2 linked regions of the Homo sapiens genome follow. The protein of the gene in region 2 interacts with the protein of the main gene of each other region in a pairwise test. Each region holds a gene or a part of one and is shown on either strand. Other genes may lie near its edges.

Region 1 (4,346 bases), on a different chromosome or scaffold from region 2:
AGAATGAAAAGAAAGCCACAGACTGGGAGAAAAATCTTTGCAAATCACATGTGTAATAATGGGCAGATATCCAGAAGATATAAAGAAGTCTCGGACCAGGCATGGTGACTCACGCCTGTAATCCCAGCACTTTAGGAGGCTGAGGCAGGTGGATCACTTGAGGCCAGGAGTTTGAGACCACTCCGGCCTGGGCAACATAGCAAGACTCCCTCTCAAAAAAAAAAAAAAAAAAAAGTCTTGGCTGGGCACCAGGTGACTCATGCCTGTAATCCCAGCACTTTGGGAGGCCAAGGCAGGATGATCCCTTGAGCCCAGGAGTTCGAGACCAGCCTGGGCAAAACACTGAGACCCAGTCTCATTCTAGATATTAAAAATTAAAACCAAAATGTAAATAAGTCTCAAAACTTAATAATAAAGAAACAACGTGATTTTTATTAATGGTCAAAAACTTGAATAGACTTTGGAGAAGATACACAGGTGGTAACTGAACACGCAGAAAGTGTGTTAAACACGCGAACCACAGCCCCAGCGAGACGCCACCACCAGGGAAATGGCTAAAATGTAAAAACCTGCCGATAGCAAGAGCCGCCCGGGATGCGGAGCAGCTGGAAGCGCCGGCGGCCGCGGGGAGGGAGCGAGTCTTGGCAGCTGCTGGCTGCGCCCCACATCCCTCACCGTCCAACTCAGCCCCCCCAGGTGTTTACCGAAGTGCAATGAAAGCTTCTGTTCACACGGAACCTGCCTATGGAGGCGGCAACGGCTCATCCCCGAGCACCCCACGCGGAGGCGAAGGAAGTGTCCTCCCGGCGAGTGGCCAAGGCGCGGGGTCTCAGCCAGGAGGGAAGGGTCGGACCCCGGGGCGGGCTGCAGGCTCGGCCAGCCCAGGGCTCCGCGCGTCTGACCCCATCCTGAGGACCCAGGGGAAGGACCAGCCCTGGCTCTGCGGCCTCGAACCGGGGGCGCGCGTGGGGAGCCCTGAACCCCGCAGCCTGCGTAGCGCACGGGGCCTCTCTCCAGCGTGGGAAGAGCCCCCGAGACGCCCAGGAGCCCGACAGGCGCGCCCCCGGCCCCGGCTCCGCCTCCCGGCCCATCCCGCGCGCCCCCAGCCCCTCCCGCAGCACCGTTGCATGAGGGGCGGGGTCTGCGGGTGGGCGGGGCCTCGGTGCCCGCCCCCTCCTCAGCCGAGCCGGGGGTCGAAGGCGGGCCGCGCGCCAAGCCCCGCCCCCGCGCGCCTCCGCCGCGACCCTCCCCCGCGCGCCCCCGCCGCGCCGCCGTCGGCCGACAGAAAGGCGCGCGCCCTCGCCTTTAACGCGGGCCCGGGGGCGCGCGGCCCGCATGGCGAGGGAGCGGCGGCCGCTGCGGGCCGGGCCGGGCCGGGGCTGAGGCCGAGCGAGCCGCGGGGCCCGCGCAGCCCCGGCCGGAGCCCACCATGCGGCGGCTGCGGCGCCTGGCGCACCTGGTGCTCTTCTGCCCCTTCTCCAAGCGCCTGCAGGTAAGCGCGGTGCGCGCCCGCCGCCCCCGGCCGCCTCTGCCTGGGGAGGCCGAGCTCCAGCCCCGGAGTGGGCCGAGTACGGAGCGGGGCCCCGGGTTCGGACACGAAGGGTTCATGAGCCCGGGGTGGGCAGCGGGGAGGGGGCGAGTGGCTCCGGAAGGACGGGACGCTGGGGGAGGGGCGGTGGCGGCGACAGGAGGGTCCGGGCGCGGGGATGCTGCGGCCTGGAGGCCCTCGCCCCGACCTGCAGGCGGTCCCTGCCCCCCAGGCCCAGAAACCACACCGAAGTCCTTTCTTCTTTTCTCCACTTAAAAAATGAGGTGTGTTATTCTGCGGTAGAAAACTTGGGACGCACAGAAACGCCCTGGCAAGGACATGACCTCCCCGCCCCCTGCCCCTTCATCCCATCAGCCAGCCGTAGCGCGGGGACCCTGCCCTGACCCCGGGATGACCTTGAACCACCGTCCCCTCCAGGGGCCTGGCCGGGTCCGCAGGGGAGGCCCGGGCCGCCTTGGGTTCCAGCTGCCAGGAGCCCTTTCACCTTCTGCTTTGGGGAGATGCAGGCCAGGCCCATCAGGCTCCAATCATCCGGGGCCCGGCCTCGGATGGGATGCCCTCCCAGACCCTCCAGGACCCCAGCCATCTGCCGGAGGCGCCAGTCCTGGTCAGATTTGCCTGTATCTCCCCGGCCCCCGCAGGGTGGTCCTGGGTCAGCAGGAGGAACCCTGCCTGCGTCCTGCCTGAGCTCAGGGCCTGGCTGGCCTCAGCTCCCCTTCTGGGAAGAGCGTATGGAACCTGGCAACCCACAGATTGCAGCGAGACCCTCTGTGCCCACTTGGGGCTTCAGGTTGTGGTGGTCCCGGCTCAGCCTTGGGGCAGGGTGAGAGCTAAGGGGTCTGAGGACCACCCCAGTCGCTGGGAGGTGGGGTGCACAGTGGTCCCCTCCCCCGAGGAAAGGCCTCGACCAGCAGCTGCAGAAGAGATGCTGATGCTTGGAGCTCCGCCCAGGAATGGCAGCAGAGGGGTGTTGGCTGCTCCCAGGGTGGCTGGCTCGGGGCCAGAGCCCTGGTGGGAGCCCAGCCTGCCCCTCTAGTGGCGAGGGCCTCAGTTTCCTGGCCTTGTGAACTGCTTTTCTGGGTTAGTGCTGTGGGGCTCCTGGCCCACGGTCTGAGCCTGCTGGGCTGAGGACCACTGTGCTGTTCCCATCCCCTGGGTGACCTTCCCTATCCTCCAAGTGGCTACACCGGGAGCTGGTCCCCACCTGCCCCTGCAAAGCCCCAGCCCAGGTCCTGGATGGTGGGGCCACCTCCACACTCAAGCTTTGCCCGTCCATCTGTGCCAGGCCCGGGAGCCAGGGTGGGCCAGGGAGCACTGTGGGGGCCTTGCAGAGCAGCTGCTTGGGACCCCAGGATCCACAGCAGGGTCAGGGATGGCAGCTGGGGAAGATCAAGACCTAGGGGAGAGCTGGGCAAGGTGGCTCCTGCCTGTAATGCCAGGCCTTAATGGGAGGGTCACTTGAAGCTGGGAGTTCGAGGCTGCAGTGAGCTGTGACTGGACCACTGCACTCCAGCCTGGGCAACACAGCAAGACCCTGTCTCAAAAGAACAACAACAACGAAAGAGCTGGGGGATGAACCAGAGCTGGCCAGGCGGAAATAGGCCCTGGCCCAAGCCCAGTCGGGGCTCTGGGGAGCAGAACTGGGTAAGTCCCTAGCTTGGTGTCACTGTCCCCAGCTGGGGTCAGCCCTAGGCCCGAGGCCAGCTGCAGCCTCCCTCCTCCTGGCTGTCCTCCGAGGCCCCGCCCATGCTGGGCCTCCCTGCATGGCCCTGCCTTGGGCACGTTCACCCCAGACGGAGCCATCCGACCTTATCCTGCCAGAACAACACCCACCCCCCATTGTTTCTCTGCTTTCCTGTTTTTCATCTTGAGCAAGTCTGCCGGAAACAGATTCAGTGCCCAGGACAAGTGGTCTGAGGGGGCGGAGACCAACCTGGGCCTGGAGGGCTCCCCACACCGGAGCCACGCCCTCTGCTCCAGGACCCCCAGGACCCCACTGCTACTGGAGGTCTGGGCCCTTCCCCAGCTGCTGGGGGTCCTCCCTCTGTAGCCCTGCCTGGGGCGGCCATCCGTGAGTGGATGCCGGGGAAGCAGGAGACCAGGGCCCACCCATCCTGAAAGAACCAGAAAAAACGACCTCAGCTGCCTGGGCTGTGCCTTGTCCTCGTTGAGGAGCTGGTGGCCCCATTTTAGGGAGGAGTCCCCTGCTCACGGCCTAAGCCGGGCTGCAGCCCACGACCTCTGATGGGGGCTCTGGCTTGGGCAGGTGGGGGTGTGGCCAGGCGCTGCCGGGAGGAGGATGTGCCCAGGGCAGCCTCTCCCTGGCCGCAGGTGGACAGGAGGCCACAGGGAGTGCTTGGAGCCAGCAGTGGGGCCTCTCTGAGGGGAAGCTGGCCCCCAAGCCTGGGCCCTTCACCCTTCAGCTGCAGGTCAGGGATGTCTGAACCCCTGTGTAGGGCAAGTCCCCTCTGCTGGCCAGTGCCTGAGAGGCCTGAAATTTGCTAGGGGGCTGGGGAGAGGGAAGGTGGCATGCAGCTGTCCCTGGCTGTCACCCTTGGAAGCCCAGCTTGGAGGCCTGCACCCTAGAGCCGGTGCCTGAGCCTCCTCAGGCCGGTAGGGAAACCAAGGCAGAGGGACTGAGGATGGCAGAGTGACCTGGAGCCCTCCCTAAAAGCCGGCTCCCAGACATCTGGGTCAGAGCTTTAGGCAGGGGCCAGGGGCTGCCTGCTTACTTTTTTTTTTTTTTTGAGACGGAGCCTCACTCTGTCGCCCAGGCTGGAGTGCAATGGCGCCATCT
Region 2 (3,803 bases):
CCCCTGGCTGCTGGAGGAAGATGTATTCAAAGTCTATGGCAGGTAGCTCTATCAGCTCTCTTCCTTTCACCAAGTTATTGGCAGCAAGAAAGGTAAGGTGGCCTCTTCCGGTACTCCTGCTGCTTCCCCGTGTTCCCTATATTATTCACCCTGGCCCCACTTCCCTACCAGACAGCTTGTGGTGGTTTTGCAACATTCTCTGAACAAGTCAATTGTGCAACTCAGAATTTCAGAACAATGCTCTCCACCTCCTAATGTTGTTCCCCATACGGGCTGGGTAGTGGGCTGGGGAGGCAGGAGGGAAGCCACATCAAGGGAGGAAACTGTCTCTTCTCAGATCTGTCTGAAACTGTTGTCTTCACCTAGACTACTAGAAATCTAGAAGCTTTTCTCTCACTTCTTCTGTTAGGTGGGATTGTCTCCTTGCCTTTCTATTTTATTTTATTTATTTATTTATTTTGAGACAGCGTCTCGCTCTGTCGCCCCGGCTGGAGTGCAGTGGCGCAATCTCGGCTCACTGCAAGCTGCACCTCCCGGCTTCACGCCATTCTCCTGCCTCAGCCTCCCAAGTAGCTGGGACTACAGGCACCCGCCATCACCTCCAGCTAATTTTTTGTATTTTTAGTAGAGACAGGGTTTCACCGTGTTAGCCAGGATGGTCTCGATCTCCTGACGTTGTGATCCGCCCACCTCAGCCTTCCAAAGTGCTGGGATTACAGGCATGAGCCACCACGCCTGGCTGTCCCTTTGCCTTTCTGAAGCTGTTATGAGTATTATACATAGAGCTTGTGAGGCAGGCCTGCTAGACACCTTTTCTGTAATGGTTAAAGAAAAGGAAAACAAAAGGAAAAGGCAGAAGAGGATTAAGGTTGCTGGTGACCACTGTTTAGGGCAGAGTGACTGCTTAAATTCTTAAAAATACAACTATTGGATGATATTGCCATTTTGCACATTCTGTCCCCTGGAAGGGCTCTCCTACCTCTTCTTCCAGGAGTAAAACCCTCTGACAAAAGCTCAAAGGTTTAGGAGCCTTCAGGGTCCTAGGAGACTGTAGCTTTCAGGGCTCCGTGGTGACACAGTGAACTCTGCATCTGGCTCTCTCCCTGTTCCCTTCTCCCCTCCTCCTGCTCTTCCTCCATCAGGGAGTGAACAGGCATTCCTACTTAGAGGATTCTGCGTGGCTGGAAGAGAAGTGGGGAGGGGCTGCTCAAAACAAGCCAGCCAAGGAGCAAGGCAGTCTGAGGGAATCCAGCCTCTGGGACCGGCTGCTGGGGGAGAGCGGGAATGCTGCTCTGCCTGTTTCTAAAAGAGACAGCCAAACACCATTTATGACTTGTATGATGGGCTTGTATAGTACTAGAAATATTAAATCTGCACTTCTCCCTCCTGGAACTCAATATACAACCCGTGGTAGTGGGACTGGGTGTTAACAAATAGAATAATCTTTGTTTATGTGGGACCCTTCCTATAGTCTCTTTTCTGAAATGTCATTTGTGGGGAGGGCTGAGGGTGGGAGAGGGATAAGAGATGTGAGCCTCATTTTCTCACTGTTATTTCCACAGCAACAGGAACAGGACCCCACAAATTTATACATCTCAAACCTCCCACTGTCAATGGATGAGCAGGAACTGGAGGGGATGCTGAAGCCCTTTGGCCAGGTTATCTCCACCCGTATCCTTCGAGATACCAGTGGGACCAGCAGAGGTGTTGGCTTTGCAAGGTGAGGATGGCAGGAGTGGGGAAATGATGAGGTTAATAACAAATGTCACTTGGGGGTCACCAGAAAACAAAATCTATGCCTTTCCCACACAAGGTCAAAATACTTTACTATTATTCAAAAATACTTGATGGTAAGTCAAAAGTTCATTTTAGGCCAGGTGCGGTGGCTTACACCTGTAATCCCAGCACTTTAGGAGGCCAAGGCAGGCATATCACCTGAGGTCAGGAGTTTGAGACCAGCCTGGCAAACATGGTGAAACCCCGTCTCTACTAAAAATACAAAAATTAGCCAGACGTGGTGGCGCATGCCTGTAATCCCAGCTACTCAGGAGGCTGAGGCAGGAGAATTGCTTGAACCTGGGAGGCAGAGGTTGCAGTGAGCTGAGATCGCACCACTGCACTGCAGCCTGGGGAACAGAGTGAGACTCTGTCTCAAAAAAAAAAAAAAAAAAAAGGTTCATTTTATTATAGGTTACAATACTCAAAAACCCATTAGCCCCACCTAAATATTTTTTTTATAAAGATGGGGTCTTGCTGTGTTGCCCAGGCTGCTCTTGAACATCTGGGCTCAAGTGATCCTCCTGCCTCAGCCACCTAAGCAGTTGGGATTACAGGCATGAGCCACCACACTCGGCTAAGCTCCCTACTACTTCCTAGGGAAGTACTCTAGGCTTTGTTCCTTTAATCCAGACCCAACCAGAGTAAAAAATTCTGTATATTCTTATAGTTTACTGAGTATTTCTCATCTTGTCTCATTTAATCTTTACAACATCCCTGTGAGATAAATATTCTCTATCTTACAGATGAGGAAAGTGAACTCTTCAGTAGAAATGATTTGCCCAGGGTCTTACAGGAGTGGGTGTTAGAGCAGAGCCCTGATCCTTCTGGCTTTGAGAGCAGTAGGATGAGGTAGAAGTTTTGATCTTCCTTTTCAGATCTGTTGGGAGACCTGTATTCCAGAACAATTCTGCACCTGTGATATCAGAGCTTGTGAGCCTTGGTTCACTCTCTGAAGTGGAGATTGATTCAGATGAGTAATTTTCCCACAGTATTCCCTATACCTGCAGTTTTCCCAGGTGCCCTTCTTTGGGCTTTGGTATCTGCCCTCACTGTCGTAGGGTATCAGCCTCCCTTAGCCCACTTAAGAAATGGCTCTGCTTTTATTTATTTTAAGATTTTATTTGAAAGGAGATTCTTTTGACTTTTTTTTTTTTTTTTAGTTTCAAAATGACTGGACTAAGTGAGCCAAGCACCCCTTTTTGCTTTATATCTTGTCTGGTCCGTGAACACCCCCTTACTCTGAGTGTTTCAGACCTTGGGAACAAGAAATAGTTTCTCTTGGCTGGGCGTGGTGGCTCACGCCTGTAATCCCAGCACTTTGGGAGGCTGAGGCGGGTGGATCACCTGAGGTCAGGAGTTTGAGACCAGCCTGGCCAACCTGGTGAAACCCCGTCTCTACTAAAAATACAAAAATTAGCTGGGTATGGTGGCGGGCTCCTGTAGTCCCAGCTACTCGGGAGGCTGAGGCAGGAGAATCACTTGAACCCGGGAGGCGGAGGTTGCAGTAAGCCGAGATCGCGCCATTGCATTCCAGCCTGGGCAGCAAAGCGAGACGCCATCTCAAAAAAAAAAAAAAAAAAAAAAAAAAGAAGAAGAAGAAAAGAAATAGTTCCTCTTCCCCAGCTGACTCAAGCTTAGTAGCACCACCTGCTGGCAATCCCGTGTATATCTAAAGGAGAGTTCCTAGGCTTGGGACCATCGAACTTATTTTGCAGGTTGAGCAGAGGTTCTTAACCTTTCTCAGTTTGTGCCACCCTTAGTTATCTAATAGTTTTTCACCCTAGACCAAAAGAAATACCTAACAGTTCAATTTATTAAGTAACTGAATGGTCCACACTTTTTTTTTTTTTTTTTGAGACGGAGTCTCGCTCTGTCGCGTACCACAGGTGCGTACCACCACGCCTGGCTAATTTTTGTATTTTTGTTGTTGTTGTTGTTGTTGTTGAGACGAAGTCTCACTCTGTTGCCCAGGCTGGAGTGCAATGGCACAATCTTGGCTCACTGCAACCTCTGCCTCCCGGGTT

The links.
Region 1: the proteins of RBMS2 (region 2) and DIPK1B interact in a two-hybrid assay, tested with the Homo sapiens proteins (one large-scale study listed by BioGRID and IntAct).

What each region holds. Positions count from the first base shown.
Region 1 is NC_000009.12:136,711,237-136,715,582, forward strand, and holds the start of DIPK1B (divergent protein kinase domain 1B), read left to right. Parts: upstream 1-1,335; 5' UTR 1,336-1,429; coding exon 1,430-1,492; intron 1,493-4,346.
Region 2 is NC_000012.12:56,570,136-56,573,938, forward strand, and holds part of RBMS2 (RNA-binding motif, single-stranded-interacting protein 2), read left to right. Parts: intron 1-1,562; coding exon 1,563-1,720; intron 1,721-2,654; coding exon of another isoform or gene 2,655-2,757; exon of another isoform or gene 2,758-3,803.